Linked DNA regions of Homo sapiens: region 1 is linked to region 2. Evidence: fine-mapped expression QTL. A gene starts in region 2. The other region holds a variant in brackets. All regions are shown on one strand. Distances are between the middles of the regions. Region 1 has its middle 21 kb from the start of ABT1. Region 2 holds the start of ZNF322 (zinc finger protein 322).

Region 1 (16,125 bases), 43 kb before region 2:
CACCGCAACCTCTGCATCCCAGGTTCAAGTGATTTTCCTGCCTCAGTCTCCTGGGTGGCTGGGATTACAGGCATGTGCCACCACGCCCAGCTAGTTTTGCATTTTTAGTGGAGACAGGGTTTCTCCTTGTTGGTCAGGCTGGTCTCAAACTCCCGACCTCAGGTGATCCACCTGCCTCAGCCTCCCAAAGTGCTGGGATTACAGGCGTGAGCCACCGTGCCCAGTCTGAGTATTATCTTTCTAAGGGACAGTGCAGACTTGGTGGGAGGCAGTCATTCAGCAGGAGTAGCATCCACAGTGTCTCTCAGGGGATGATCAATGTTTCCCAAGGATAAGCTAGATTCAAGATTTTCTTAGAGCTCCTCCAAGGACTGTGTATGAACAACTAGTGAAATGTGGACAAACAGGCTCCCTACGAAGCCAGAGGGGGCCGGGCCTGGTGGCTCACACTTGTAATCCCTGCACTTTGGGAGGCCAAGGTGGGCGGATCACTTGAGACCAGGAGTTTGAGACCAGCCTGGCCAATCTGGCGAAACTCCATCAAAAAAAGCCAGAGGAAGAAAACCACACTTTAAAGCCAGACCAAGGAAGGGAAAGATTAAAGGCAAATGCAATTTCCCACCCCCAAGATGCAAGTGAGGAAAGACTATCTTCCCTTTTCTTCAGGCAAGCATATTCCCAGGGAAAAGCAGGAAGGTAAGACTCCTATCTGAGCTTACATATTGAAAAGAGAAATGCCGGCCGGGCGCGGTGGCTCAAGCCTGTAATCCCAGCACTTTGGGAAGCTGAGCTGGGTGGATCACTTGAGGTCAGGAGTTTGAGACCAGCCTGGCAAACATGGTGAAATTCCTTCTCTACTGAAAATACAAAAATTAGCTGGGTGTGGTGGAGGGCGCTTGTAATCCCAGCTACTTGGGAGGTTGGGGCAGGAGAATCACTTGAACCTGGGAGGCAGAGGCTGCAGTGAGCTGAGATCGCAGCACTGCACTCCAGCCTAGGTGGCAGAGGGATGCTGTCTCAAAAAACAAAAAGTAAATAAAAATAAAAAATAAATAAAATAAAAAGAGAAGTGTCAATAGCATGGGCAGAAAAGTTGTGGAAATTTCCCAAAGGTTGTTGCTTCTGGGCTTGCAGCTGTGGCTGAGCTCTTGTCTTATATCCCAAACTGATGGAAAATGAAGGTGCTGGTGCTCTGACAGGTCCTTCTCCCACTGAACCCTAGTCAGGGGGCATTGGTTCCCTAGGGGCACTTCTGCTGCTTAACAGGCCCACTCTAAGCAGGACACTCTGACTGAGGCAGCAGTGAAGAGGTTTCGAAACCCAGGCTTACTCTGTGGTGCTGTCTCCTTTGAAGGAAAATCATGTGCCCTGAATAAAGGATCCTGGGTGTTCAGGACCAAGTATACCCCAAAAGACTGATGGCACCAGTGGTCCTACTAGGGCCTGCTTCACTGATGAATGCTCCAGAAATGGAACTCCTGACTGAGCTAGACAGACCTATCCTAAAGCACCAGTGCCTTAGGATTGGCATTTCTCCAAAAGGAAGGCTCATGGGGCTGTGCTATCAAACGCTGAGCCAGTGGCCTCATTGTCAGGTGACTGTGTGGGACCCAAGTGGCCTTCTTTCTTTCTTTTAGATTGGGCTTCTATACTAGCCTAAATATAGATGGATCAGAAGATCCAGAAGGATCTGTATATGTAGGAGAATTAAGGGTTGGGATGCTTACAGGAATTGGTTTAGAGCAGGGATGGTTGGGGACTTGGCAGACCTGTCAGCCTGAGGGGTCAGAGGTGGCTTGGTGGGGTCAGTGATGAGTAATGTGGTAGAAGCAGGAGTCAACCAGGAGTAAGTGACTGTTGGCCTCAAGTCTGAAGAGGTGCCTGGAAGTGTCTCTGACTTCGAGGACACCAAAGGGGTCAGCAAGCTGGATGTCTCCTGAGGCAAAGCAGCCACACAGGTTATCCCTCCAGTGGACTATAGGAAGGCCAGTGGGCCTGGGGTATTCTGCATCACTTTCAAGCTCTCCAGCTTGGATTAGTGCTCCCAAATGGAGGGGTAGTTGGAAATGGTGCAGTCCCAGCAGCAGGTAGGGTGACAGAAAGGATGGGCTGAGTGGCAGGCACAATCTCAGGATAGTCATTGGTGGCCTCAGTCTGCTCCTTTATGACTTCGTTGACCTACCAGAGTGCAGCTTTCTTGTCCAAGTTTTCTGCAGTGACTGCATAACCAAGTTGGGGAGTTGAAGACAGGATACCCTCCCCCTATGGCTTAGAAGGCTGTAGCAAAGTTTTGCTTTCATGAGGCCCAGAACTAACAGATGTGGGCGATGTATTCCTTGAGTTTTGCTTTGTTTTCTTCTGTGAGGGAGTGTCTGCAGCCTGAACCTCATTGTTTAATCCCTATACAGCAAAGTGTGGACAGATGTTTTTCTGTGCCTTTTTGTTTGTTTTTGAGAGGGAGTCTTGCTCTGACGCCAGGCTGGAGTTCAGTGGCATGATCTAAGCTCACTGCAACCTTAGCCTCCTGGGTTCAAGCTCTTCTGTGCCTTTTTTAGGGGAAGAGGATAATGAGTACTTTAGACATCAGGAGGGATGTGAAATTGCAAACTGGGACCTCCTCTCTTCCCTGTCTTTGAAATGTTTCCAGGAGAGCTGTAGGAGCTGCCAATGTCATTTCTGTTGGAGCTGAGGGGACCACTTGGGAATATGCTGGTCAAGGGGCTCTTGGAGGGATGATGAGACTTATTCTAGTGGTCATCTGAGCTCTGGGAATGGAGGTTTGGCTTCAAGGGACTCGGGCACCAAATAAACAGGGATCCCATTGGCTATCACAGTTGAATGTGAATATCTGGTCTCCTGGAGACTTGTTTTCCTGTCCTGGCTCAGGGAATATTGGGTCTTCCACTTTCATTTTTTTGCATTCTCTGAGGGCCTCGGTTTGATTTTTTGTGCCATAAGGGTCTGGAAGCTTTAAGGGTGCTTAGCTCAAAGTCGGCTTTGGTACTGGAAACTGGCTCACTTGGATGAGGTCAGGGGAAGCAATCTTGATGGTCACCAGGCTCCTGCAGGGTGACCTCCTGGCTAATCTGTGGAAGGGAGTGGGGCGAAACACATCAATGTATTGAACACTGCAGGGTCGTAGAGAGCCAGCGGCTGGCGGGCTTCTCCGAAAGCTCCTGGTCCCCCTAGGAAGGCGGCGGTGAGGGATCAGGCTTCTCCATGTAGAACTACCTTTGGTGAGTGATGTGGCTGGACCTGGGTTTTCGAGCTGGATACTGCCTCCAGGGAGTTTTCATTGGCTGCCGATGAGACCCCGCGCGAAGTGCACAGTGTTCTGGTGACAGGTGACCGTCAGGGATGAATGATGTGCACGGGTCTTCCGCGGCCCTGGAGCCCTTCTAGACAGCCAGCGCCCAGCACATGGGCACTAGGGACCACTGAGGTATAGCGACAACCCCAAAGAGCGTCCCCAGCCCCAGCTCTGCCACCCCCGTCCCCACCAGTTTCTCGTCCAGCCATCTCATTTATCACTTGCCTTAGCGAGGGCTTGGGAGACACCAAAGGAAAACAAACCCTGCGAAAGAGGAGCCCGGGCATCAGGACTGATAGGCCTACCCGGCTGCCTCATCTCCCGCTCCTGCTTAACTGCTGGAAGTCTCAGATTTGGGTTCCCGGGCACACGGGAACTCTCCCTCCGCGCTGTCCGGACCCTAAAGGCAAGTTGCCGGGGAAGGTTCCTTAACAAACAGCGGGCTTCCCGGTAGCCGGGTTCCCAGCCCAAGAACCTTCTCATTCACCTGCGCAGCGCCGCGGGACCTCACCCTTCCGGTGTGGTGCCAAGATCCAGACTGCCTGACTTGTTTTCGTGCCGCCGGACGGTGTGTTTAATCGATGCTGATGTTTTACTCTCTAGTTTGAGGACCCAGCGACAGGGCTTTAGCCCCTCTTCCTGCAGCTGCGGATAACAGACATTGGCTCTTTGGGAATTGCAGCGCGCTAGCCCAGGAGCGCCGCGCTGTCTGGGGACTGTGGGGCAGTGGTCCCTCGGGGCGGACAGAGCTTGGGTACAGGGGGCTCGCGCTCCCTGATCCCGGCTTCAAGGTTCAGCTTGAAGAGAGTCGGTTTACCTTTCCACCCACACCGGGCCCTGGTGCGGGTCGAAGGCCACAGGCTGAGAATTTGCTGGGAGGGGTCGGGAAGAAGCGTAGGAGCGCTGACCGCCTCCCCTTCCTCTTTCTCTGTCTTTGCGGGCGGCGCTACTTCCCTTTCCCGAATTCCGAGCCCCCCTCTCCAGGTCAAATGCTCGGCGCGGCCTTTCCGAGACTACCCGAGAAATTCTGACGGTGAGCGCCAGACAGCGGCGTGGTAGCGGCCTTCCAGGGAACTGCCTCTCGGGAGAGGAGGGGACGGGCGGGGAGAGGCCCTTGGCCCCTCTCATTCCCTGAGTCCCTGCGGCGGCGCCCCTCTTGGAGCTTGAGACCTCAGGGATTGAGGATCGCGGGGAGCCTCGGACACAGCAGGCAGGTGGTGTGGAAGGTGCCACCTTCATTCTTCGGTCTCTGGGGGCTCTGGCTTTTTCTTCTTACTGCCCATCGCTGGCGATCCCGGGGGGAAAGGGTCAAATGGCAAACTCTCTCGCAGGAAAATTCAAGTTTCCAGGGTTTTTGCCCCACAGGTCTTTAGAAATTTTTCGTTGAGTGAAAATTCTTCCTGGGTCCCTCTTCCTTCACGTCTCTCTCACCTATGACAACTTCAGATTGTGCACCAAGGATGGGAGGGAAGTTATCGGGAAAGGACAAGATTATATTTAGAATTCACTGGGGAGGTGGTGATTTCTGAAGACAGACCATGGGATCTTGGTCCTGTGCTTCTCAGGAGTCAGATGTGGAGCTGCTTTTGCCCTTGCTCTCGCACTGATCTCCCATAGGATCTGCATCTCCAGCCTCTCCAAACTCCAACTCATCCTACGCGGGACATCAAACCCACCTTTATACTGCCCAACGATAAAAAAATTGTTATTTCAAGGGCTCCTCAACCTTTGGATACAAAATGAGTTATCAGTAAAGCTAATTGGGATATTCCCAACTCACAGACCCCAGGGAGCAGCAGGGGGTGAGGAAGGATTTAGCAGCAGGACATCAACACCGGGGCGAGCAGTGCAGGCCTGATGGAGATGTGGCAGGGAGACACCTCAGTGCTGGAAGTCTGGATAAGGCACCAAGACCTCAGCACAGATCTGGGGTGTGTTCACAGTGGGCTTCTTTATTAGAGTGGAGAGTGGAAAATGGAAACAATGGAAATATCCAAAAAAAAATTGGAGTGTTTAATTAATATAAAGATAATTTAGATAAAGTCATGTGATGGGAAAACAGACAAGACAGACTGTGTGTGTGAGTGTTCTGTATCTTGTCCCTGATACACAGTATATTATGTAAATCATACTTCTATTTATATTTTAAAATGGCTATTGATATATAGATAGAGATGTGTTTACAAAGGCATAAAAGAACAATTGAAAGGATATAGATTGAACTGTAATAAAGTGATTAACTCTGGTTTGGGACTGGATTGGGAGGAATGGCAATGTTATAGTGGTATATTGTTCCAAATTTTCTACTTGTATTATATCTTTCCAGTAACAAAACAGTGAACATAATTATAATTTTATTTATTTATTTATTTTTGAGACAGAGTTTTGTTTTTGTTGCCCAGGCTGGAGTGCAATGGCGCGATCTCGGCTCACCACAACCTCTGCCTCCTGGGTTCAAGCGATTCTCCTGCCTCAGCCTCCCGAGTAGCTGGGATTACAGGCATGTGCCACCATGCCTAGCTAATTTTGTATTTTTAGTAGAGACAGGGTTTCACCATGTTGGTCAGGCTGGTTTTGAACTCCCAACCTCAGGTGATCCACCCTCCTCGGCCTCCCAAAGTGCTGGGATTACAGGTGTGAGCCACCACGCCCAGCCATAATTTTAATTTTAAAGGCAAAGAAAAAAAGAGTTCATTTTGGCAACTTGGAAGAATGGATTGGAAACCAAGAGTTTGGAGGCTGAGATGTGAAACAGTTCATTGGAAGAGTCAACATTATCCTGATATCAAGATCAAATAAAGACAGTACAGGAAAAGAAAAACTACTACTATCCTTCATAAATATAGACACAAAAATTCCCAGCAAAATAATAGGAATTTGAATCTGGCAATATATATTTAGAAATACAATTAGGAAAAAGGTAAGGATGTCCCTCTCATCACTCCTTTTCAGCATTTTACTGGAAGTTCTAGCTAATGCAATAAGACAAGAAAAGAAAATATAAGGTATACAGATTGGAAAGGAAGAAATAAAAACTGTCTTTGTTCACAGTATTGTCTATGTAGAAAATCTGAAAGAACTGAAAAAAATTCTTGGAACTAATAAGTGATTATAGCAATGTTGCAGGATATAAGGTTAATATACAAAAGTGAAATGTTTTCTATATACCAACAAAAAACAAGTTGAATTTGAAATTAAAAACACAATACCATTTACACCCACCCAAAATGAACATTAAATGCATACCACTAAGTGAAAAAGGCCAATTTGAAAAGGCTACATCCTGTATGATTCCAAATAATGTATATGACATTCTGGAAAAGGCAAAACTATATGAAGACAATGTAAGAACCAGTGGTTTCTAGGAGTTAAGAGTAAGGGAGGGTAGTAGGGAGGGATGAATAGACAAAGTACAGAGGATTTTAGGGAAAAACTGTTCTATATGATACTATTATGGTGGATACATGTCATTATACATTTGTCAAAGTCCATGGAATGTACAATACCAAGAGTGAACTTTAATGTAAACTATAGACTTTGAGTGATAGTGATGTGTCAGTGTAGGCTCACCAATTTTAACAAATGTACCACTCTGGTACAGGATGTTGATAGTGGAGGAGGTTCTGCATAGTGGAGGAGGTAGCAGGTATGTCGGAATTCTCTGTACTTTCTGCTCAATTTTGCTGTAAACCTAAAACTTCTCTAAAAAATAAATCTATTTAAAAACGCACCACTGGTAAATGGGGTTAATCCCTTAAGTGCAAGGCTGTTTGAATATTTGAAAATCAATCAATATTCTCTACTACATTAACAGATTAAAAAAGAAAATCACATTATCATATCAATGAATGTGAAAAAGCATTTGACAAAAATCAACCACCATTCATGATTAAAACTTTCAGCAAACTAGGAGGAGTTTGCTGTTCCTAGCAACTATTTTTGACCTAATAAATGACATCTACAAATTATGTATATTAGACAGCATATTTAATGGCAAAAGACTGAATGCTTTTCCTGAAGTTCAGGTACAAGTTAAAGATGCCCACTATCATCACTCTTATTCAATGTCTTACTGATATTTTTGACAGTGTAATAAGGCAAGAAATTGGCATAAAAAGTGGAAAGGAAGCAATAAAAAATGTTCCCATTCACAGATGACATTTCTGTCTACATAGAAAATCCAAGGAAATCTATAAAAAGTTCTTAGCACTGGCTGGGCATGGTGGCTCATGCCTATAATCCCAGGACTTTGGGAGGCCCAGGCAGGCTGATCACCTGAGGTCAGGAGTTCAAGACCAGCCTGACCAACATAGAGAAACCCTGTCTCTACTAAAAATACAAAATTAGCCGGGCTTGGTGGTGCATGCCTGTAATCCCAGCTACTCGGGATGCTGTGGCAGGAGAATCGCTTGAACCTGGGAGGCAGAGGCTGCAGTGAGCTGAGATTGCACCATTGCACTCCAGCCTGGGCAACATGAGTGAAACTCCATCTCAAAAAAATAAAAAATAAAAGATTCTTAGCACCAATAAGTAATGAGTTTGCAGAATACAAATTCATCATAAAAAAATCAATACTATATATACTATCATTGAATAATTGGAAACTAAAATTTTAAAACATACTGTGTACAGAAGCTCCAAAATATTAAATTACTTAGATATAAATCTAATAAACATGTGCAGAGTCTGTATATTAAAATTTACAAAGTGTTATAGACCTAAATCAAAGAACAGATAAATTAATGGAGGGATATACCATGTTCATAGATTGGAAGACTAAACACAGTTTAGATGTTAGTTCTCACAATCTGATCTATGAATGTAACCCAATTTAAATTAAAACCCATCATTATTTTGTTTGTATATGTATACAAGATGATTCTGAAATTCATATGGAAAGGCAAAGAATCAGAATGGCCAAAACAATTTTGAAAAAGAACACAATTGGAGATCTCAAACTAGCTATTATAAAAATTATTATAAAGAAACAGTCATTAAAAGTTTGGCAGCTGGGCTCGGTGGCTCACGCCTGTAATCCCAGAACTTTGGGAGGCCAAGATGGGCGGATCACGAGGTCAGGAGTTCGAGACCAGCCTGACCAACATGGTGAAACCCGGTATCTACTAAAAATACAAAAATTAGCCTGGTGTGGTGGCACATGCCTGTAATCCCAGCTACTCAGGAGGCTGAGGCAGGAGAATGGCTTCAACCCGGGAGGCAGAAGTTGCAGTGAGCCAAGTTCATGCCACTGCACTCCAGCCTGGTCAAGGGAGCAAGATTCCATTCCCCTCCACCCCCCACCCAAAAAAAAAGTTTGGTATTAGTGAAAAGATAGACTCACAAACCAGTGAAATAGAACAGAGAGTCCAGAAATAGACACATACAAATATACATAGTTGATTTTTTTTCCTTGAAAATTATACTACTTTATTTGGAGTAGAGACAGAGGAAAGAGTTTGGAATGATATTATCAAAAATATGTGTGTGGTATCTAGAGCAAGGCCATTTACTATGTATAATGGAAATGAATAAGAAAACAACTGTGAACTCATACAAAATCAATAATTTTAATCA[T/C]AACATCATAGCTAAAAATATTAAGAGATTTAAGAATAATTCACTTATTCTTTTAGTGTCAAAAACTCAAGGGACTCCATCATCTCCTCATTTTCTTTAAAAAATCTGTCTGCATATTAATGTTCTAATCATGTCAATATAGAATGAAGAAAATATTTAAAATTGACAGACTGACATTATAGGAAAGGATGCTTTCAGCCGGGCGCAGTGGCTCATGCCTGTAATCCCAGCACTTTGGGAGGCTGAGGTGGGCGGATCACGAGGTCAGGAGTTTGAGACCAGCCTGACCAATATGGTGACACCCCCGTCTCTACTAAAAATACAAAAATTAGCCAGGCGTGGTGGCGTGCGCCTGTAGTCCCAGCTACTCAGGAGACTGAGTCAGAAGGATCGCTTGAACTTGGGAGGCAGAGGTTGCAGTGAGCCAAGATCACGCCATTGCACTCCAGCCTGGGTGACAGAGCAAAACTCGTGTCTCAAAAAAAAAAAAAAAAAAAAAAGGATGCTTTCAAAATTATACACGTTGTGCAGAGATTTAATGCTCAGTTCAAAGATGAACAACAGAGAGCATGTACCTGGCCTTATTTCTCCTGGTTTTCAAGGAATCATGATCTTTGATAGGTTTCTTGAGAAATGCCACAAAAAAGAACAACAAAAACGTTCTGGAATTTTCTATTCTTTAAAAAAGAAAATGGACCAAAAAATAATAAAGTATAACTTTTTGCCATAGAAAAGATAACAAGCAAAGAACTACAAAGTCAAACACAGATTCAGAAGACACTTGCTCATGAGCAGCTTTGTCTTTTTTAGCCGAATCTACAGCCATAATTCCTGATTCAGATATGTATTTTTATTGAAGATTACTTTTTTTTTTTTAACATACTAACTGAATCACAGGCCGTTTACAGTTAAAGAAGTAGCAGTGGGTAAACAGATGTCACTGGAAAACAGTACAGATCACAAACAGTTCAGGGATGAAACTCTGAATGTAGCATCTTCAGTGAAACTTGAAAAGGCCTTTTTGAACACACACTGTTACGTGAGTGTGGGCAATTGATTTTTGATAAAGGTGCAAAGGAATTCAACGGAGAAAAAATAAAGTATTTTGTTGTTGTTGTTGTTTGTTTTTTTGAGACAGGGTCACATTCTGTCATTCAGCCTGGAGTGCAGTGGCATGATCATGGCTCACTGCAGCCTCCATATCCTGGTCTCAAGTGATCCTCCTACCTCAGCCTCCCAAGTAGCTGGGACTTACAGGTGTGCACCACCATGCCGGGCTAATTTTCATTTTTTTGTAAAGATGGGGTCTCATTATGTTGCCCAGGCTAGTTTCAAACTCCTGAGCTCAAAGCAGCCTCCTGCCTTTGTCTCCCAAAGTGTTGGGATCACAGGCATGAACCACTGCACCCCACATAAAGTATTTTTAACAAGCGCTGTTGAAACAATTCAGCATCCGTATGTAAAAATAACAAGCCTTCACCAAAACTTCATGCTGTATATAAAAATTCACTTAATATGAATCATAGACCTAAATGTAAAATCTAAATTAGCTATTAAAACTTTTAGAAGAAAGCATGAGAAGAATTTTGTGAGCTGACATTAGGCAAAGACTTCTTAGATATTAGATACTAGAACTAGCCTAACATTTCTTTGGTGGAATGTTTATTCAAGTCCACTGCCCATTTTAAAATTAGTTGTTTTTGCTACTGAGTTGTAGGAGTTCTTTACACATTTTGGATATTAATCTCTTATCAGAGATATGATTTGCAAATATCTTCTACCATTCTGTAGGTTGTCTTTTACTTTCTATGATAGTGTACTGTGATACACAAGTTATTAATTTTGATGAAGTCCAATTTATTTATTTATTTTGCTGCCTGGACTTTTGGTGTCTGTCATATTTATGAAATCGTTGTCAAATCCAATGTCATAAAGATTTCCCCCAATTCTTTTTCTAAAAGTTTTATAGTTTTAGCTCTTGAGTTTAATTTTTGTGTATGATATAAAGTAAGGGTCTAACTTGAATCTTTCACATTGTGAACAAATGTGAACCTGAAAGAGCCAATCTTTAAGATGGACCTTAAGTGGCTAATTGGGCCTAGATTTAAAATACAGCCAAGTGGCCTTTTATTGATTAGAGGTCACACCGGTACTCTGAGATTCCTTGAAAACGCTATCTCTGTTCAACTTAGGAACTTTCAGAGCTGATCTGAGCCAACCAATCAGAGCTCACCTGTACCACCCAATCAGGGCTCAGCTGTATTGATGAATCAGAACTCAGCTGCATCAACCCATGGGAACTAAAGCAAATTTCAAACTTTAATTTGCATAAAGGGACTAATTGGGAACCTTGGCGGGAACGTTTGCTATAAAACCCTCTCTTTGTCCTCTGGAACACACCTTTGTTTTTAAAGGCTGCTGCATCTCCCCATTTGCAAACTGTTCACTGGACAAAAGTCACTTTCCTGTAAATTTCTTTTCAGAGAACTTTTGTTCACAATATGTGGGTCTCTAGCACCATTTCTTGAAAAGGCTCTCCTTTCCCCATTGAATTCTCTTGCCACCCTATCAAAAATGAGTTAGTCATATATCTGAGGATTTATTTCTGGACACTATTCTATTCCATGGACCTATATCTTCATATGCTACTACTATACAGTTTTGATTACTGGAGTGTCATAGTAAGTTTCAGACAGGTCAGGAAGTTTGAATCCTTTAATTTTATTCTTATTTTTCAAGATTGGTTTGGCTGTTAATGGCTCCTTGCAATTCCATAAGCACTTGAGAATCTGCTTTTCCATTTAGGTGAAAAGGGCTGTTGGATTTTTAATAGAGATTTCTTTAAATCTGTAGATCAGTTTGGGTAGTGTTAGCAGTGGAATATTAAGTATTCCTATCCATGAATGTGGGATGTCTTTCCATTTATTTTTTGTAAATTTTTTTCAGCAATGTTTTGTAGTTTTCAGTATACATGTCCTTCAGCTTCTTGGTTAGATTTATTCCTAAGCAGTTAATTATTTTAGATGTTATTATAAATGGACTTGGTTGTTAATTTCCCCTTTCTGATTATTCACTGTTGGTGTATATTAACACAACTGATTGGTGTGTGTTGATCTTGAAAACTGAAATTTTGCTAAATTAGTTTAGTAGCTCAAGTAGCCTTTTGTAGATTCTTTGAGATTTTCTTCATAGAGGATTCTGTTATCTGTGAATAGAGATGGTTTTACCTTTTCCTTTCCAATCTGGATGCCTTTTATTTCTTCTTCTTGTAATTTCTTCTATTATTAACATATTATAGCAGTATAATTATTTGTTACAATTGATGAACTAATTATTACATTATTATCACATTATTAACTAATAGATGTAGCATTCATATTTCCTTAGTTTTTACCTAATGTCCTTTTTATGTTCCAAGATCCAATCCAAGGTACCACATTTAGTTGTCATATCTCCTTAGGCTCCTCTTGGCTATGCCAGTTTCTCATACATATATTTTTAGTTTTGACGTCTTTCACAGTTTTGAGGAATGAAGATGATCAGGTCCCAGTGGATCCTGGATTCAAAGTCCAGAGTGCTAATCATTACACCAAGAGGTCTGGCAAATTGACCAATTTTTACTTTTATGGATTGTAATTTTGGTGTCAAGTCTAAGAACTCTTAATTTTTAGCACTAGATCTCAAAGATTTTCTTCTGCTTTTTTCACAAGTTTAATAATTTTACTTATAGAATATTACACTTAATGCAAAAGCCCACCAACCAAAGGCCAGCAGGGAGCACACTTACAGATAAACAAAATTAGATTTATTAAGCTTCCTGTGGTAAACCAGAATGCACCCCAGAGGAACCTGCAGAAATCAGTAAGGAAGAGATGGGAAGTTAATTTTTTTAGAAAAATAGGGTTTGGCCTGTACTAGCTGTCTTCACCTCCAGTTGAAGACATTGATTTAGCTGTTTGCTGATTTAGCTTCTAGAAGAGGTTCAAATACCAATGGTGAATATGTCAGTTTTGGCTTAGCTTGATTGATAGTTTTAGTTTTTATTTTCAGGTATGAACCTTGAACAAACAAAATTAAATCAGGGTTATCCAAAGGAGTTTCCAAGAGAACTATAAGGGGTATGGGTAGTTCACAAACAGAAGTTAAAATATTGTGTGGGCCTGGAGCAGTGGCTCATGTCTATAATCCCAGCACTTTGGGAGGCTGAGGCAGGTGGATGGCTTGAGCCTAGGAGTTCGAGACCAGTCTGGGCAACATGGCGAAACCCCATCTCTACAAATAAATTTAAAAAAAAAATGAGCTGCGTGTGGTGGCGCATGCCTGTAGGCCCACCTACTCAGGAGGCTGAGGATCACTTGAACCCAGGAGGCAGAGGCTACAGTGAGCCATGTTCACACCACTGCACTCCAGTCTGGGCAAAAGACAGGGACTTTGTTAAAAAAAAAAAAAAAAAGAAACAAGGAAAGAAAGAGAGAGAGAGAAAGAAAGAAAGAGAAAGAAAGAAAGAAAGAAAAGAAAGAAAGAAAGAAAGAAAGAAAGAAAAAAGAAAGAAAGAAAGAGAAAGAAAAAGAGAAATGAGATAAGGGAAAGTGTTACTAGATTAAGGGTATTATAAAGATGAATAGTGGATATGTAAAGATGAAATAGATAGGAAAGGCATAACATCTTCAGAGCCTTTAATTTTTCTCATAGAGTATAATATGAATACCACTTAATGATGAAGGTATTTAAGGCCAGAGACAAAATCTTTTTTGCAATCAATTTGTTGACGGTTATTGTGTCAGTCTTTATATCTGAAAACCAGTATTTTTATTTTAAGAAGGACACAACTGTTTCAGCAACCATTAAAATATTATATTTTTTGACTTCATCTTTTAATAAAATTTAAAAATGTTAATTAATAGACTTTATTTTTTCCTTTTTTTTTTTTTTTTTTTTTTGAGACCACATTTCGCTCTTGTTGACCAGGCTGGAGTGCAATGGTGCAATCTCAGCTCACCACAAACCTCCGCCTCCCGGGTTCAAGTGATTATCCTGCCTCAGCCTCCCCAGTAGCTGGGATCACAGGCATGTGCCACCATGCCCAGCTAATTTTGTATTTTTAGTAGAGACGGGGTTTCTCCATGTTGGTCAGGTTGGTCTCGAACTCCCAAACTCAGGTGATCTGCCCGCCTCAGCCTCCCAAAGTGCTGGGATTACAGGTGTGAGCCACCACTCCTGGCGAATAGACTTTATTTCTTTGAAGTACTTTTAGGTTTATAGAAAACTTGAGCAGAAAGTACAGAGAGATTCTATATGCCCCCACACCACCCACAGTTTCTTCTATTAATATATTACATTTGTGTGATACATTTATTACAACTGATGAGCCAAGATTGATATATTATTATTTAACTAAAGCCCATAGTTCACATTAGGGTTCAGTCTTTGTGTTGTACATTATAGGGGTTTTAACAAATGTATAATGTAATATATCTACCACTACAGTATCATAAAAATAGTTTCACTGACCTAAAAATTCCCAGTGCTCTATCCATTTGTCCCTCCCCCAACTCACCCCCATTCTGGAGAACATTGATCTTTTTACTGTCTTCTAATAGTTTTATCCTTTTCAGAATGTCATATAGTTGAAAGTATATAGTATGTAGCCCCTTAAGATTGGCTTCATTCACTTAGAAGAATGCTTTTAAGGTTCCTCCATGTCTTTTTTGTGGATTGATAGCTCATTCCTTTTTATTTGTTGAATACTATTCCATTGTATAGATGTACCACAGTTTGTTTATCCATTTGCGTAGTGAAGGACTTCTTGGTTACTTCCAAGTTTTGGCAATTATAAATAAAGCTGCTATAAACATCTGTGTGCAGGTTATTGTGTGGACATATGTTTTTAACTCATTTGGGTAAATATTAAGGAATAGGATGGCTGCATCATATGTTAAGATTATGTTTAGCTTTAAAAGAAACTGCAAAAATGTCTTCCAAAGTGGCTGTATCATATGGCTTTTTCCTATCAGCAATGAATGAGAATTTCTACTGTTGCATATCTTGGCCAGCATTTGGTGGTGTCAGTGTTTTGGATTTTTGACATTCTAATAGTGTGTAATGCAATTTCATTGTTGGTTTAATTTTCAGTTCCCTAATGGCATACAATGTTGGGTATCTTTTCATATGGTAATTTGTCATCTGTATATCTTTTTTGGTGGTGTCTGTTTAGATCTTTTGCCATTTTAAAAATTGGGTTGTTGTCTTAGTGAATTTTTTTTTTTTTTTTTTTTTTTTTTTGAGAGGAGTCTCGCTCTGTTGCCCAGGCCGGACTGCGGACTGCAGTAGCGCAATCTCGGCTCACTGCAAGCTCCGCTTCCCGGGTTCACGCCATTCTCCTGCCTCAGCCTCCCGAGTAGCTGGGACTACAGGCGCCCGCCACCGCGCCCGGCTAATTTTTTGTATTTTTAGTAGAGACGGGGTTTCACCTTGTTAGCCAGGATGGTCTCGATCTCCTGACCTAATGATCCACCCGCCTCGGCCTCCCAAAGTGCTGGGATTACAGGCGTGAGCCACCGCGCCCGGCCCCTCTTAGTGAATTTTTAAAGCCTTCTTTGTATATTTTGAATACAAGTTCTTTATTGATACATGGTTTGCCAGCATTTTCTCTCAATATGTGGCTTGTCTTTTCATTCTTTTAACACGATCTTTCACAGAGAAGTTTTCAATTTTAGTGAAGTTCAGCTTACCAGTTATGTCTTTCATGGATTGTACTTTTGGTGTCGTGTCTAAAAAAAATCACCATTGCCCGGGCGTGGTGGCTCACACCTCTAATCCCAGCACTTTGGGAGGCTGAGGCAGGTGGATCAACCTGAAGTCAGGAGTTCGAGACCAGCCTGACCAACATGGTGAAATCCCATCTCTACTAAAAACACAAAATTAGCTGGGCATGGTGGCGCATGCCTGTAATCCCAGCTACTCAGAAGGCTGAGGCAGGAGAATTGCTTGAACCCAGGAGGCAGAGGGTGCAGTGAGCAGAGGTGGCACCATTGCACTCCAGCCTGGGCAACAAGAGCAAAACTCCTAAAAAAAAAAAAAAATCATCAAATCAAGTGTCCCTAGATTTTCTCCTACATCATCTTGTAGAAGTTTTATAGTTTTGTGTTTTACAGATTAGGCCTATAATCCATTTTGAGTTAAATTTTGTGAAAGTTGTAAGGTCTGTGTCTAGATTTCATTCTCTTCCAGTAACTCTCCTA
Region 2 (16,125 bases):
AGAGGTTGCAGTGAGCTGAGATCGCACCATTGCACTCCAGCCTGGGCAACAAGAGTGAAACTCCGTCTCAAAAAAAAAAAAAAAATTGTAGATACCCCATAGAATGTACAACATAAAGAGTGAACCCTAATGTAACCTATGGAGTTTGGGTGGCAATGATGTATCAACTTAAGTTCACTGATTGTAAGAAATGTATCACTCTGTTGAAGAGATTAACAGCGGGGGATGCTGTGTGTGCTATGTGTGTGGTATGTGCATGTGTCAGGGTAAAGAGAGTGGTAGGGGACATATGGGTACTCTCTGTATTTTTTGCTCAGTTTTGCTATGAACCTAACAGTTCTCTAAAAAATAAAGTCTATAAAAAATGAAATAATTTTTTAAATGTACATGAAATACCAGTTCTCACCAATTAAATCTGCATATATTAAAAGGTATGACAATGCATTTTGTTGTCGACACTGTAAGGAAACAGACACACTCATATGTTGCTGGAGGGAATGCAAACTGGTAAGTCTATAAAAAAAGAAATAATTTTTTAAAAGTACATGAAATACCAGTATCACCAATTAAATCAGTATACATTAAAAGGCATGACAATGCATTTTGCGGTCAACACTGTAAGGAAACAAACAAACTCATACGTTGCTGGAGGGAATGCATATGGGTACAATCTCGTCCGGAGGGGAATGTGGCAATATGTAACAAAACTAGATATACATTTACTTTTGACTCAGCAATCCCATTTCTAGAAATGGACTCTGAAGATTCACCTCCAATAACATGAAAATATAAAGCATAAAATTACTCATAGTAATGTTTGTAACGGGAAAATATTTAAAATAAATATCTGTATGTAAGAAAATGGTGAATAAACTATGGTACATACATCCACACATAATGGAGTACTATGCAACTGTAAAAGAGAATGAGGAAAATCTTTATCAACTGATGTGGAGTGATTTCCAGGATAAATTATAAATTTAAAAAAGCAAAGTGTAAAAAAGTATGTTGTATTTTATGTAAGAAAGTAAAAATAAAAAATTATATATGTAGTTCTCCACTTGCCCCAAAAAACAAGAAACTAATGAGATTGGTTATCATTACAAGGCAGATAAAAATGGAATTGATGGCACAGGAAAACAGAATTGGGTGGAGGAGAAGAGTCACATTTCTCTGAGAATATGAATACACAGCACACATATTTTTACTTTTAGAATTATGTTACATTTTACATATTCAATACATGAATGAACTAATGAACTAAATAGTCAAGATGGAAGAGAAAAGCATAAAAACAAATGCGCCTGTGTTTCAAATAAATAACAACTACACAGAAGAGAAAAAAAAATAACTCTAACACAATATTGGGACTATGTATATTCAATCTAAAGATAAAAATAACTCGAATCAGTACAGATTTTCTCCCCTGTTGGGATAAGGGTACACTACTTAATGTGTATCCTAGGACCGAATAAATAAGTAAATATACTATGGATAATGTCACCTAGATTCCCCATTGTCAATGAAGAAGGCTACAAACAGAAAAGAGAAAGGCTAGAATGAACTCTGTAGTGTTTAACTGGAATTAGAAGTACCAGTATAAGTCAAGATTTTAAGGTTTATATAGAGAATAAAGAAACGTATATATGTGTGAAATTACGTATGTTTATTTTTTTTTCCTAGTAATGTTTGCTGAGAAGTCATGGAAACAATAAAATCCTAGTAGTAATGAGTATACCAAGCATTCAGACATGGGTTTCTAAATACCATTCTACATTGAAAAGAATCAAGACTCTTTGGAGAAATGGCTGTTTCCACGGTTTGGAAAGTATAAGATAAGCCTGGACCATCCTGATGTGTCAGAAAGTAAGGAAGTGCTCAAAAAGTGGTGCAATATGCCAGAAGGACCCACAATTCAGGATGGAAGGACTGCCACTGTACAAATCTGGAACAAGCAGAACATTGAAATAAGTAATAACAGTAATAAATTAGTCACACAATAAGAATCCATGAATTTGTACTCATTAAAAAAAAGTGTATAGAAGGGAAAGTTTTTTTGCATTAGAAAAGCAAACAAATATAGAAGAAATGATGGAATTAAAAATTTCACGATGTTCAATCAAAAGAAGAGTACTGTGCAAAAATCTACTGGATGAAAAATTTTATGAGAATCAAGATATTTACATAATCTGAAAATATCTCCCCACTAGATATTTAATAATTATAAATATAAAAAGAGTAACTTCACAGTATAGAAACCTGGAAGACACCACCTTAACCTAATGGTATCCTCAACTAAAGTGAACATGACCAGTAATGAGATAAAACATCATGAGCCTCCTAATATGATGCAAAGAGAAAAACATAACATCACTTCTGCGGTATCTTGCCAAAAATGTCTAAACTGAATCTGATCACGAGGGAACATCAGAAAAACCCAAACTGAGGGAAACTACCAAATAAATGGCCTAAATATTCAAAAAATGTCAAAGGTATGAAAGACAAAGTCTGAAGATATGTTCACAATAGGGACAACATTATAATTAAATTAAATGACTGATGCTGAATTAGATCTTGGTCCACAGAAAACATTTTTTTCTTTTTGTCTTAAACAACATGAGTGGAGCAATTGGCTAAGTTTGAATAAGGTCTGGAGATTAGATAATAGTACTTATTGTATGAATGTTAATTTCCTGACTCCGATAATGGTAATGATAATTTCTAGAGAATATCCTTGTTTTTAGTAAATATACAACTGAATATTTAGGACAGGCTTTCTCAATTAGGGTTCTAGAAAAGAAGTCCCCAAAGAAAATGTATTCGAATGACTGTTTTCTCAGTTCTCCTAGGGATGGCATGTAGCTAGCAGTACTGTACATGCATAGGAGAGCAGGATTCCATGGCTTGATTCTCTGTTTGAGAAGAGACATGTCTACAATTTATTCTCAAATGGCTCAGGGAAAAATCTATACATATGTATATGTGTATTGCTATGCTTTGAATGTGTCCTCCAAAGTTAATGCATTGGAAACTTCATCCCCAATTCAATGATGTCGGGAAACAGATCCTAATGGGAGGTATGTAGGTAACAGGGGCACCACCCTCATAGACTAATGCCATTATTTCAGGAGTCGGTTCCTCACAAAAAGATGAGTTTGGTCCCTTTCTGAGCACTCTTGCTTGCTCTCACCCTCTCTTTGCCCTTTTGCCATGAAATGACACAGCAAGAAGGCTCTCACTAGATGCCAGCCCCCGTCTTGGACTTTCGAATCTCCAGAATCATGAGCCAATAAATTTCTGTTCATTATAAATTACTCAGTCTATGGTATTCTGTTATAGCAGCCCAAAACAGACTAAAACGTTTGTTTAATAGACAGAGGCAAAATCATAAAGCAAACATGGTAAAATGTTAACATTTAGAGCATATGAGTGAAGGGTATATGGGAGTTCTTTGTACCATTTTGCAATTTTTTGTATATCTGTACTTATTCAAAATTAAAAGGTATTTTATTTTGGTTTTCAAAAAACATGGTGGCTAAAGATTGGTTTATTTTGGTGGTTAATACTGACAGTTTAAGCTCTGGATGCAGATTTTGGTTCAAATTCCCACTCTCCTCCTTTGTAGCTGTGAGAACTTGGGTTAGTAACTTAATTTCCTTCAACTTCAATATTCTCTTTTTTCCTCACAGAGTTGCTATGAGAACAAAGACACTGCCGGTACTAAGCTCAATGCCTAGGTCTCAGTAGATGCTTAATAAATGGTAGATTCTATTATTTTCTTAATTCTACCTTCACATGCACAAAACCACTAACATGTATTAAGCCCATTTTCTATGCCTGATTCTTGTGCAAAGCCTTGTTCAAAACCCACTTGCAATAACTAATAAAACAATTTGGCCAGTTAATGATTAATATGAAGATTATGCAAAAACTAGAAAAAAATTATGGAGAAATATTAGAAGGAAAAGGAAGAATTCCAACTCAGAATCACAACTAAGTAAAGATATGCCGGGATACAGACAAATAGCTGTTATAAGATGGGGGGTTCATAAAAGGTTTTGTCTTTTAAAATTTGTATTAGTGTTAAGCTCAAAAGGAGAATAGAGTGAAAATAAAGGATTCTTAGTTTTGTCACAGCCAGGCAAATCATTTACATTATTCCCTAAAGTTATCAGTCCAAGATGTCTTATTTGCCCTAAACAACCAATGAAGTGTGGGGCATTAAGAAGAAGAAAAAAAAAACTGAATAAATAAGGAAATAATTTTCCTATTCATATCCAAGCTTTTTTTAGATGTCAACACCTAAAAAATAAGTCTGGGTGTCAAACCTCAAAACAGATCATAAGGCCGGGCGTGGTGGCTCATGCCTGTAATCCGAGCACTTCGGGAAGCCGAGGCTGGCGGATCACAAGGTCAGGAGATTGAGACCATCCTGGCTAACACGGTGAAACCCCGTCTCTGCTAAAAAGTACAAAAAAATTAGCCAGGTGTGGTGGCGGGCGCCTGTAGTCCCAGCTACTTGGAAGGCTGAGGCAGAAGAATGGTGTGAACCTGGGAGGCAGAGCTTGCAGTGAGCTGAGATTGTGCCACTGCACTCCAGCCTGGATGACAGAGCGAAGACTCCATCTCAAAAAAAAAAAAAAATCACGACACTTCCCTAATTTAAAATACTGTTTTCTAGCACACTCAGAATAAAATCCAAAGTTTTTACTGCTCTACATAATGTGGCACCTCTGCGTTATCTTCAGCCTCACAGGCCATCTCCGAGCTTTTGCACTTGTTCCTTCTGCCTAGAATGCTCTTCCCCATGCAGCTTACTCCTTTATTGGACTCAAGTCTCTGCCTGAAGATCACTTCCTCAAAAAGCAGCATACCCTGACTACCTTATCTAAAATAGCCTGTGTTGCTTTATCACATTTTATTTCTCTCCACAGCACTTATCACCATTCAACTTTATGGTATACATTTTATATTTATTCGTTTGTCTTTTTACTAAAATATAACTTCTATTAGGGTTAGGACTTAGTCTTTTGCTTACTGTAATATCCCTACTACCTAGAGTACATTTGTTGAATAAATGAAAAGTGTGAACAAATACCAGAACAAAAAGGCAATCATTATCCTTGGACCCCCAGTAGCTGTATAACAGACTAGACCAGTAGCCCTGGCTGGTTCATCTAGCAAGCCCAAATACATCTTTCAAGTCTTAGCTCCAGGGTACCCTCCTTCAGGATGCTTCTCTTGCCCCATCCTAGGAAGAGACTAGTACTCTTTCCTGCCTAGGGTCGAAGTGAAAGGAATAAACTGGAACACGACAAAAGTCCAAGCAGACAGGCTAATTCATACAACTTGAGAGTTCATGGTTATCCTTAAAGGGTATATGGGACCAAGAGACAAAGTTAGTAAAGCATTATTTAAAAATTAGATGGTGTTTATAGGCCTTAGACTTGGAAATTTCTCATTTATTTTTCATTGATTACATGGATTATCTCATTTAGTCCTCCCAAGGACCCTATGAAATAGGTATTAATACCAGTGTTTGGATCTTATAGATGGAAAACCTGATGCTTAGGGCAGTTAGATAATCACCCAACAACTTACAAATAGTAAGCAGCAGAGCCAGGATTTCAATACCTATCTTCTGACTCCAGAGCCTGCCTAAGCATTAGGCATACTACCCTCTTTGTGCTACAAATCAATCAAAAAGCAATTACTGCAAGCCTAATGTGAATATGCATGCATGTTGAAAAGGAGTAGAAAATAGCCTTAAGTTGGTAGGATAGGGCTCAGTTTTATCACTCTGCTATCTTAGGAGCTAAGAAAGGGGCATTCTCTTTTTCCATATATCTTCTCCCATACTTTCCTGTCTTTCACCCTGCCCCACCCCACACCCCCATCCACATTTATACAGAAACAGAGCCTGGTATACCACTTACCGTAACAAGAAAGACTCAAGACCATCTTCCTTTTGGTTTCAAAAGGTCTCTAGTTCAGAACTATTCACAACACTCAATTCTTGCCTCTCCTAGAGGAAAAATCAATAATGTAGACGATGACCTTGTGAAATTTATAATTCATAATTTTTCTAGAGCTGGCCTAGAAAACTGGTCCCATTTCCTCTCCATTCTAGTGAGCATCCTTCAACCATAGCTTACCTCTTCCCATCTTTGCTTACACTGTTTCTCCTGCAGGAAGTACCTGCCACTGGTAGCCATCAGTTCCGACCAGCTCTAGACAAAATGTCAAGAATCTTTCTATTACTAACTGTAACTTCATAACAAAGCCCTAAGCCTCGTTTTTCGTTTGTTTTTTCTCCTTCTGCTAATTGTTTTTGTTTGTATTATCTCAACTCCTAAGATCAAAGACCCATTCGTCTACCACTACAAACCCCAAAGTGCATGTGATAAGTGTATATAATATAAAGTTATCTGTAATTCCATTTTCCAAAAAGAAATGGTTATAGGAAGATTAAACAAACCAGATTTTTCTGCAGATAGATTCAACTGCAACATAACTAATTTCTGCACTGAAGATGAAGCGAAAAATCCATTCAAGGTCCTTTTTTTCCTCGATATATATGAAAGATTATATTGCTTTGAAAAGTGCCTTGCAGTGTTTACTATCTCTAGGAACTACCGTACTAAGGTTCTCTTCTTTCAACTTTTCATTGACCATCTTTCAGTCCTCCGTCCGCCGTCAGCGGAGACCAGACCATGCTCAGTGTCCAGGAACAGGGGCTGCTCCCACTCGACTGTGGCCGTGGGTCTTGGGTCCCACCGCGCACCCATCCCACCCCTGGGCCCCGCAGGCCGCGCTTACCCTGGCAGCCGCCGGCGCCGCCCCTAGGCCTGGGGACAGCACTTCCGGTTACTCTCCGGACACTCGAATCTGGGCTTCCTGGCGGCCGCAGACTCTGCGATAGTAGATCTAAGGGCCAGGCTTCGGGAAGGAAAGAAAAGCGAACCCGGCACGGACAAGACCTAGGAGCAACTCCCTTCGTGCGCCTAGACTAGAGGAGTTGGGGCCAGGCCGCCCACAGAGCGCTTTAACAGAGCGCTTCAAGGGCCCACAAGGCCGGCTACGCAAACCCTTTCAAGCTGGCTGGGAAGAGGCCGGCGCAGCCCCACCCCCGCAAGTCACATGATCACCCCTCTCCGGCCACTAGGGCGTTCCAACCCCGGCCCCTGGGCCAATAGGAGCCGAGTCTTCGGAAAGGGGCGGGGCCCGGGGCGCCTGCGCTCTGGGAGCCCTCGGCGTTTTGGTGGGAGGGGGTCTTGCTGGCGCAGTGGAAGGCCGGCTGCGGGGGGAGGCGATCGCTGCCACCCTGTCTAAGAAGAAACGGCACCAACAGCGTTGCAGTTTATGTTACAGTTTCCCCAAGGCTGTTAACCGAGGACTCAAACCAGGAGTAGAGTCACAAAGATTAGATGCCACTGACCCTGAGAGAAACACCAGGAAAGATCTGGGAGAGATAGAGGATTCTGAAGCACAGTGGCAGCGCTGTCATCCACGAAGATGTGGCCAGCGAGATGGAAGAAATGCTTTTAAAAGTGGTGGACTTGTGTGGGTGGAGAAAACAGCAGCGAGAGAAAGTACTGTGGGAGGTTCCCCAGTCCTTGCTGATTATGTTTCTGATTTGGAATCAGCTAAGAGTAAATCACCTAGTGGTGGGGCTGGAACAGAACTCAGTTCTTTAGGTTGAACACTGGGTATTCTCCCAGCTCAATTGTTAAATTAAAAAAAACAAACCAACAAAAAACAGTTTTTAAATGTCCTCAGCTATCAAAGGGAAAAGATGAGTAGTAGGAATATGGAAAACTAAACCCTGGGCAGCCTGGCCAAGGACTTGGATTGTGAGCCAGTTGCTGAGGTTTAGTAATTGGGGAGCGCAGTCTCTGAGACACGTATTCAGTATTAACTAATCATGTTCCTACTAGTGGAATTCTTCCGCAGAGGGTCTACAGCTTATTCTACTTTCATGTTTATTTTTAATGAAACTTTCAAGGTCAAAATATTCCACTCAGGGTTGTCTTAATATTTTGAATAATAACATTTTGAGTGTGTAGCATGTATCAAACACTGTTCTAATAACTTTACACTATTGTCTCATTCAGTTGTAACAAAAATCGTGTGAGATATGTATTCTTTTAGGAGGAAACTGGTGCACAGAGAGATTAAGTAGCTTGCCCAGGATCACATATTACTGATGAAGCTGTAATGTGAACAGTCTGATGCCAGATTCTGTGCTTGCAGTCACTATACTTATGGCTACCTCAATAGTGGTGAGTGTATTGTGTAAAATTATTGGAATAAAAATTAAGCAAGTTGGATTCTGATCTCTGCACTGCATATAACAAGGTCTGAATATGTGTAGAATTGAACTGTTCAACCTTTTCTTTCAGGATACATTGGCCCAAAGTACTCTTTATTAATTGTTTTATTCAGTTAAACATTTATTGAGCACCTCCAATTAACAGGACACCATAGGCCGGGCACGGTGGCTCACGCCTGTAATGCCAGCACTTTGGAAGGCTGAGGCGGGTGGATCACCTGAGGTCGCGAGTTTGAGACCAGCCTGACCAACATGGTGAAACCCTGTCTCTACTAAAAATACAAAATTAGCCAGGCGTGGTGGCGCATGCCTGTAATCCCAGCTACTTGGGAGGCTGAGACAGGAGAATCGCTTGAACCTGGGAGGTGAAGGTTGCAGTGAGCCAAGGGCACTCCAGCCCGGGCAACAAAAGTGAAACTCCATGTCAAAAAGAAACAAAAACCAAAAAAACAGGACACTATGCTGTGTGTTAGGAATTAAAGGCCAGTGAGACTCAATACCACTCCTTTAATGGCTCACAGTCTGGTATGGAGACGGCAGGGGTTTTAGGTGGTGTGGTAGAGGTAGAAGTTGTATAAGGTCATCTGGGGGCATAGAGGTGAAGCACTTTGTAAGAACTTTGAGAAAGAGTCAGAAAAGACTCTGTAGGAGATGAGACATAAGGTGAGACTCGAAGGAATAGAAGTAAGGAGTTGGCTGAAGATGAGCCTGAAATGGAAGATGGAAAATAAGTACAGAGACATTTGAATGTGATTTCAGTTAGTGGAATTTATCTTATATGAAATGGGAAGCAATTCTTGGAATTTCAAGCTGTGGAAATAGGGCAATTATCCCCACATTTAAAATCTTTAGAAAGATTATTTTTAGTTTTAAGTATGAGGATAAAGAGTAAGAAGGAGCAGCCAGGAAATTATGAGGAAAACAAAAGTGGACTACGACAACCAAGGGAGGAGAGTTTCAGTTAAGAGGTTTTTGACCAGACACTGTGGCACATGCCTGTAGCCCCAGCTGCTTGGTAGGCATAGGTGGGGGGATCACTTGAGCCCAGGAGTTCCAGACCAAGCTTGGGCAACATACTTCTTGTGGTTCTGAAGAGGATCTGGCTTTGAGGATAGAGATGAAGGGTATGGAAAGACTATTGTGACTAGAGTTGAGCAAGTGGGAAATTGTGAACTGCAGCCCCTGGAAAGGTGCATTTCAGTATCTTGTTTCCTAGAAGCCAGTAGGTCTGAAACTTCTTTCTGAGATTATCCACTGGAAAGTAGATTGGTCCTATGGAGAGTGTATGTATCTAGGGTTGCCAAATTTAGAAAGAAAAAAGTACAGGAAACCCAGTTACATTTGAATTTTAGATAAACAATAGATTTTAAAAAAGTTTTTAGGGAATATATTTTTCCCATGGGACATACACTAAAAAAATGGTTCATTGTTTATCCGATATTTAAATGTAACTGGGCATCCTGTATTGCATCTGACAATCATATAAGTAGCCTTTGTATGGAAACATATTCTGTGGAAGCAGTTCGTTTATAAGGGGCAGCATTTGTGATAAGATGAGGCAGGGAATTGCAGTTTCCTAGGATTTCTCCTTCTGAGAGAATAAAGAGACATCACCTAAGAGGGTTAGATCATGTGAGTGACTGAACTAATGTGATAAGATCTGATTATGGGAGAGAAAGATTGAGTTATATCTTTAGTTCGGCCAAATATTTGGTAAGAATAAGGACATGGCGATTTGGGAAATAAGAAATATAAGTTTGGACTAATGTCAAGTAGAAGGATAAGAGATTGGAGATCAGGGAAAAGGAGCAGGATCAGGGGACAACATAGGTTTAGTGTATGAATCATATTGAGGTGGAAAGGTAAATTTGAGTAGAAAGTGACGTCAAATAGGTTACTTATATGATCAATTAATGTTGGTTGGATGAACATGATTAGGCAAGCAAGTCAGAGGCATGCAGGGTATGAGTTGGGGTTGGATAAAGTATGGATAGTTGATGAGTTGTAGAGGAAAGTGATCAATGGATTTGAGACTGAGGAGAGAGTTTTTTTTGGAAGGTGTAGATACATTGGAATTCCATTTGAAAACCCTTTAAATTCTTCTTAGACACCATGCAGTCTTTTTATTTTTCTAAATCATTTTCCAAAGTGATTTACACACTAAAAAGGAATACCTTAGACCATGCAATAAAGGACAGACAGATGATCTAAAGAACAGGACATAATCAAGATTTCAGTGGAAATTCCCAAGGTACTTAAGGAAACAACTGGGGTCAGAGGAAGGCTAAAGAATACTATGGCAGGTTTTGGCTATGTTAGAATTTTTCCTGCCGAAATCTAAGCTGAAAGTTTCCACGAAGGAACTCTGAAAAAGAGAAAGTCCTCTTCTGTGTCTCTACGGCAGGCATATTTGCGATTTTTGGGATCCTGATGCATGCACTGTTAATGGAGATTTACAGGAGTCAGACCCAAAATCAACGTTAGTGGCCTCAATTTTTCTTCATCTGCTGCAGCTTGTTACTGAGAGTTCTGGTGATTGTTCCGTACCTGTTACTCCAACTAGATTTTAACTTAGTACAGAAAAGGTCTTTCATCCATGTCATCTCTTCTTTTTTTCTTTGTTTTTTTTTCTTTTTGAGACGGAGTCTCGCTCTGTCGCTCAGGCTGGAGTGCAGTAGCATGATCTCGGCTCACTGCAACCTCCACCTCCCTCATTCAAGCAGTTCTCCTGCCTCAGCCTCCTAAGCAGCTGGGATTACAGGCATGCGCTACCAAGCCCAGCTAATTTTTATATTTTAGTTGAGTTGGGGTTTCACCATGTTGGCCAGGCTGGTCTGGAACTCTTGACCTCAAGAGATCCACCTGCCTTGACCTCCCAAAGTGCTGGGATTACAGGCGTGAGCCACTGTGCCTGGCTTTTTTTTTGAGATGGACTCTTGCTGTGTCGCCCAGGCTGGAGTGCAGTGGCACAACCTCAGCTCACTGCAACCTCCACCTCCCGAGTTTGAGCGGTTCTCCTGCCTCAGCCTCCCAAGTAGCTGGGACCACAGGCATGCGCCATCACACCTGGCTAATTTTTGTATTTTTAGTAGCGACAGGGTTTCACCACGTTGACCAGGCTGGTCTCGAACACCCGACCTCAGGTGATCTGCCCGCCTCGGCCTCTCAAAGTGCTGGGATTACAGGCGTGAGCCACTGCATCCAGCCCATCTCTTCTTAATTTACCTTTTCTCTCATACATTGAATCTATCTGGCTATTCACCATTATTCCTTTTCCTGAATGATGCGTGGCTGCCTTTTCTGTGTTTTCCGTCCAGCTCTCCAGCTTATCTGTTTTACAGTGCTCTACTTTGTCTTTCCATCTTGACTGTTACAAGTTCATAAGACAATACCTCCCTCCCTGAGCTGAGGTAAGAATGAAATGTAGTAATTAATGCAAAGGTATCATCATAGTGACTCGGCATGTAATAGATACCCATTAAAATGTTAGTTCTAGGGCTGGCATGGTGGTTCACACCTGTAATCCCAGCACTTTGGGAAGCCAAGGTGGTGGATTGCTTGAGCTCAGGAGTTCGAGATCAACTCAAGAGCAGCCTAGGTAATGTGGTGAAACCCCATCTTCACCTAAAATACAAAAATTAGTCGAATGTAGTGGTGCACACTTGTGGTCCCACCAACTCAGGAGGTTGAGATGGGAGGATCCCTGGAGTCCTCTGGGAAGTTGAGGCTGCAGTGAGCTGAGATTGTGCCACTACACTTCAGCCTGGGTGACAGAGTGAGACCCTGTCTCAAAAAAAGAAAAAAATTCTTTAAAGCAGGGGTCCCCAACCCCTGGGCCACATACAAGTTAGTTGCTTCTTCAGAACTGGGCTGTACAGTAGGAGGTGAGTGATGGGCAAGTGAGTGAAGCTTCCATCTGTATTTACAGCTGCTCCCCATCACCCGCCTTACTGCTTGAGGTCCACCTCCTGTCAGATCAGCAGTGGCATTAGATTCTCATAGGACCGCGAACCTTATTGTGAATTGCAGATGAGAGACATCTAGATTGCATGCTCCTCATGGGAAGCTAATGTCTGATGATCTGTCACTGTCTCCCATTACTCCCAGATGAGTATTTGAATTACATTTGTAAGCCTCACTGTGCTGTACCTTTTATACTCATAGACTCTGTATCTAAGTTAATGAGACATTTTATGTAAATCCTGCCCAGTGAGTCTAGTCTAGTTGCACAAAGACAAGCTTAGAGCTCCCACTGATCCTACATTATGGGGAGTTCTATAATTATTTAATTATATACTACAATGTAATAATAATAGAAGTAAAGTGCACAATAAATGTAATATGCTTTAATTATCCTAAAACCATCCCCCTCCACCATCTGTGGAAAATTTGTCTTCCACGAAACTAGTCCCTGGTGCCAAAATGGTTGGGAACTGCTGCTCTAAGGGGAACCATGCTCTCTGTTTCTTTTTGGATCCAAAGTTTTCTGAGCCCGTAGATGCCAAACAAGTGCAAAAAAATTTGAAACTTTTTTCTTTTTGAGTCTTTTTTTTTGTCTTTGTCTCTGTCTCTTGATTTTATTATATCTTTGTTTTTCATTTACATTCAGATTTCTCTTTTGCTATTTCTGTTTCCCAAGATTCCTTTCATTCAGCCCATCCTCAAGCAGATATACTTGGAGGACTAGCCTCAAGGGTACTAACACAACCTGAGGAAGGTAAACTGTAAGGAAGTTTAGGTGAACCTAAAGCATATTCCCTGAATAGAGTGAATCTTTCTGAGATTGCCCACAGTAGAGGTGACAGCACCTGAGTGTTTGAGTTACATTTGTAAGTCTCATTGTGCTGTACCTTTTATATTCATTGGCTCTGTATCCTAGTTAATACATTTTCTGTAAATCCTGCCTAGTGAGTCATGCAGACTCAGGTTTCAATTTAGAAAAGAAGGTAGTTTAAAAAGGATTCATTATCAGCTCAGATGAGCAAGTAAAACCTTGTATAGACCCTTGTAGTCCCTCCTCTTCTGCAGCTGAAGAACAATATCTTTAAGTTAACAGAAAGCATATTAATTGTCAGTTTATCAATCAGCAACTGTTTGCTGATGTGTGTAAGATAATAGAAGCCCTCAAAACAAATGGGAGAAACTTTTGCAAGTGAAGGAAAAAAGTAGAAAATAAAAATAAGAAGCAAGTAAAACATAGTCAAGAAATAACTTCTGGTTCAATGGAATTGTTTTGTAAGATACCAGTGATTCTTCTTTTTGGAGAACAATCATAAAGTACCTCAACCTCAAGCTAACCAAAAATCTAGGTAGACATTCTTGAACACAATTGGGGCAGTTTTAATTTATTCATTTGGTGAGTAGCAGACTCTCACCAAAGGGCTTTATGTGTGTGGGAAATCATGCCCCCAAATCGCTTTGGAAGAGGGAAGCAGCAGTTCTCAAGACAGATATGACCCTGTATACCCTAAAACAGCAGTCCCCAATCTTGTGGGGGCCAGGGACTGGTTTCATGCAAGACAATTATTCCACAGACTGGTGGGGCAAGGTGGTTTTGGGATGAAACTGTTCCACCTCAGATCATCAGGCATTAGGTTTTCATAAGAAGCACACCACCTAGATCCCTTGCATGAGCAGTTCATAATAGGGTTCGTGTTGCTATGAAAATCTGATCTGACAGGAGGCGGAGCTCCGGTGGTAATGCTCGGTTGCCTGCCACTCATCACCTGCTATGGCAGGTCACACATTGTTGCTAGTCTGCGCCCTGGGGTTTGGGGACCCCTGCCCTAAGAGGAATGTGAATTAGTTTTTTGTTGTTGCTGTAACAAGTTACCACAACTTAGTGTATTAAAAATATATTAATAAATGTATTATCTTAAAGTTCTGTAGATCAGAAGTTTAAACTGGGTTTCACTATGTTGGCAGTGTGTGTCCCTTTCTGGAGAATCTGTTTCCTTGCTCTTTCTGGCTTCTAGGCTTCCTACATTCCTTGGCTTATGACCCTCTTCTTTCATCTTCAAAACAAGCAATGAAAGATCAGTTCCTTCTCATGTCACTTCGTTCTAATCCTCTGTCATTTAATTGCTCTCTGAAACAGCAGAGAGAGGTTGTTTACTTTTAAGGATTCATGTAATTAAATTAGGCTCACCTGGATAATCCAGGCTAATCTCTCTAGCTCAAACTCCTAACTTTAATCACATTTGCAAAGTCATTGTTCCCATGCAAAGTAATAGATTCACAGGTTCTGAGGATTAAAATACGAATATCTTGGAGGGGGGCATTATTCTGCCTATGCAGAATTTTAATTATACTTTCCCCATTTTCCTTCTTTCTTGACTGATTTTTGTCACGATTTGGAAAATTATAAATTTCCCAAGAAATGCCAGGAAGGAATTTCCATATGGAAACATGGCAATACAGCCTGGAAAGCACTATGGACAGTTGCATGGACCTCACAGTAAGGAAATCTAACATAGGCTTCAGGCTGGGGAGAGCTTTATAGACAATGGATGTCATAAATAGGTTTTTGAAGAATATGTAGTAGTTATCTTTGTGAAAGTTAAGGGAAGAGAGGATTGGAGCCATTAATTCACAGGACTGTGATTAAACTGAGACATACACATTTCATTTTTAGGGGGAAGTTAAAAATAGTTTAGTATGAGTTCAAATGTAGGAGGAGAGGGATATAAAATTTGAGAGTTAAGCATTGGACCTGTGTAAGTCTATTCTCATGCTGTTAATAAAGACATATCTGAGACTGGGTAACTTATAAAGGAAAGAGGTTTAATTGACTCACAGTTCAGGATGGCTAGGGAGGCCTCAGGAAAGTTAGAATCATGGCAGAAGGGGAAGCAACCATGCCCTTCTTCACATGGTGGCAGCAAGGAGAAGTGCCAAGCAAAAGGAGAAAAAGCCCCTTATAAAACCATCAGATTTAGTGAGAACTCATTATCATGAGAACAGCATGAGGGTAACTGACCCCCATGATTAAATTACCTCCCACAGGGTCCCTCCTGAGACATGTGGGGGTTGTCGGAACTACAGTTCAAGATGAGATTTGGGTGGGGACAGAGCCAAACCATATCAGACCAAACATAAAAGTCTAAGAAGCTTTGACTTTTAAGACAACATTAGGAAGTGCTTGAAGGTTTGTAAACAGTGGCACCACAAAAAAAAAAAAAAAAAAAAAGCTGTGTTTTTGAGATAGCTTCAGAGGCTACAATACAGAGTGTACATTTAAATACAATCAATAGATTAAAATGAAATAAACAGGGAAATGGTTTGAGAACATGCATAGTAATCACAATGAGAAACATTACAGTGACTTCAACTAAGTAGAGCAAGAAAAACACTAATATACAGCTACTGCGAGTGCAAGTGAATGCAGTAAATTTGGAAAAGAGTGTGGCAGTATCTAGTTGAAGATACACTTTTCTTACCAGCAATTCTGTAATCACTTGACAGGTTCTTCTTGTCTGCTGCGCAGAAAAGCCAATGCAGTGAGAACAGCAGGTTTTGCAGCAAAGAAAGAGTTTAATAATTGCAGGGCCAGCCAAGTGGAAGGATGAAAGATAATGCTCAAATCCACCTCCCTGAGCATTTGGAGGCCAGAGTTTTTCAAGGATAGTTTGGTGGACAGGGGGTAGGGACTGGGGAATGCTAATTTGTTGGGTAAGGGATGAAATCATAAAGGGTCAAAGCTGTCTTCTTGCACTGAGTCAGTTCCTGGATCAGGGGTTCATGAGACCAGCTGAGCCAGTTTTTTTTGTTGTTTGCTTTTTGTTTTTTTGTTT

The links.
Region 1: its variant is fine-mapped to the expression of ZNF322 in whole blood (INTERVAL, PIP 0.99).

What each region holds. Positions count from the first base shown.
Region 1 is chr6:26,610,114-26,626,238 of GRCh38, forward strand. No RefSeq gene overlaps it. Among named protein-coding and RNA genes, the nearest start is that of ABT1, 21 kb to the left of the region's middle. The variant T/C (reference allele first, on the strand shown) is at 8,885.
Region 2 is chr6:26,652,622-26,668,746 of GRCh38, forward strand. It overlaps ZNF322 (zinc finger protein 322), which reads right to left and starts at 7,125. Exons shown (of 4, transcript NM_024639.5): 1 at 6,820-7,125; 2 at 5,937-6,025. RefSeq lists enhancers at 6,555-7,055, 6,776-6,825, 6,836-7,025, 7,056-7,556, 7,256-7,315 and 1 more.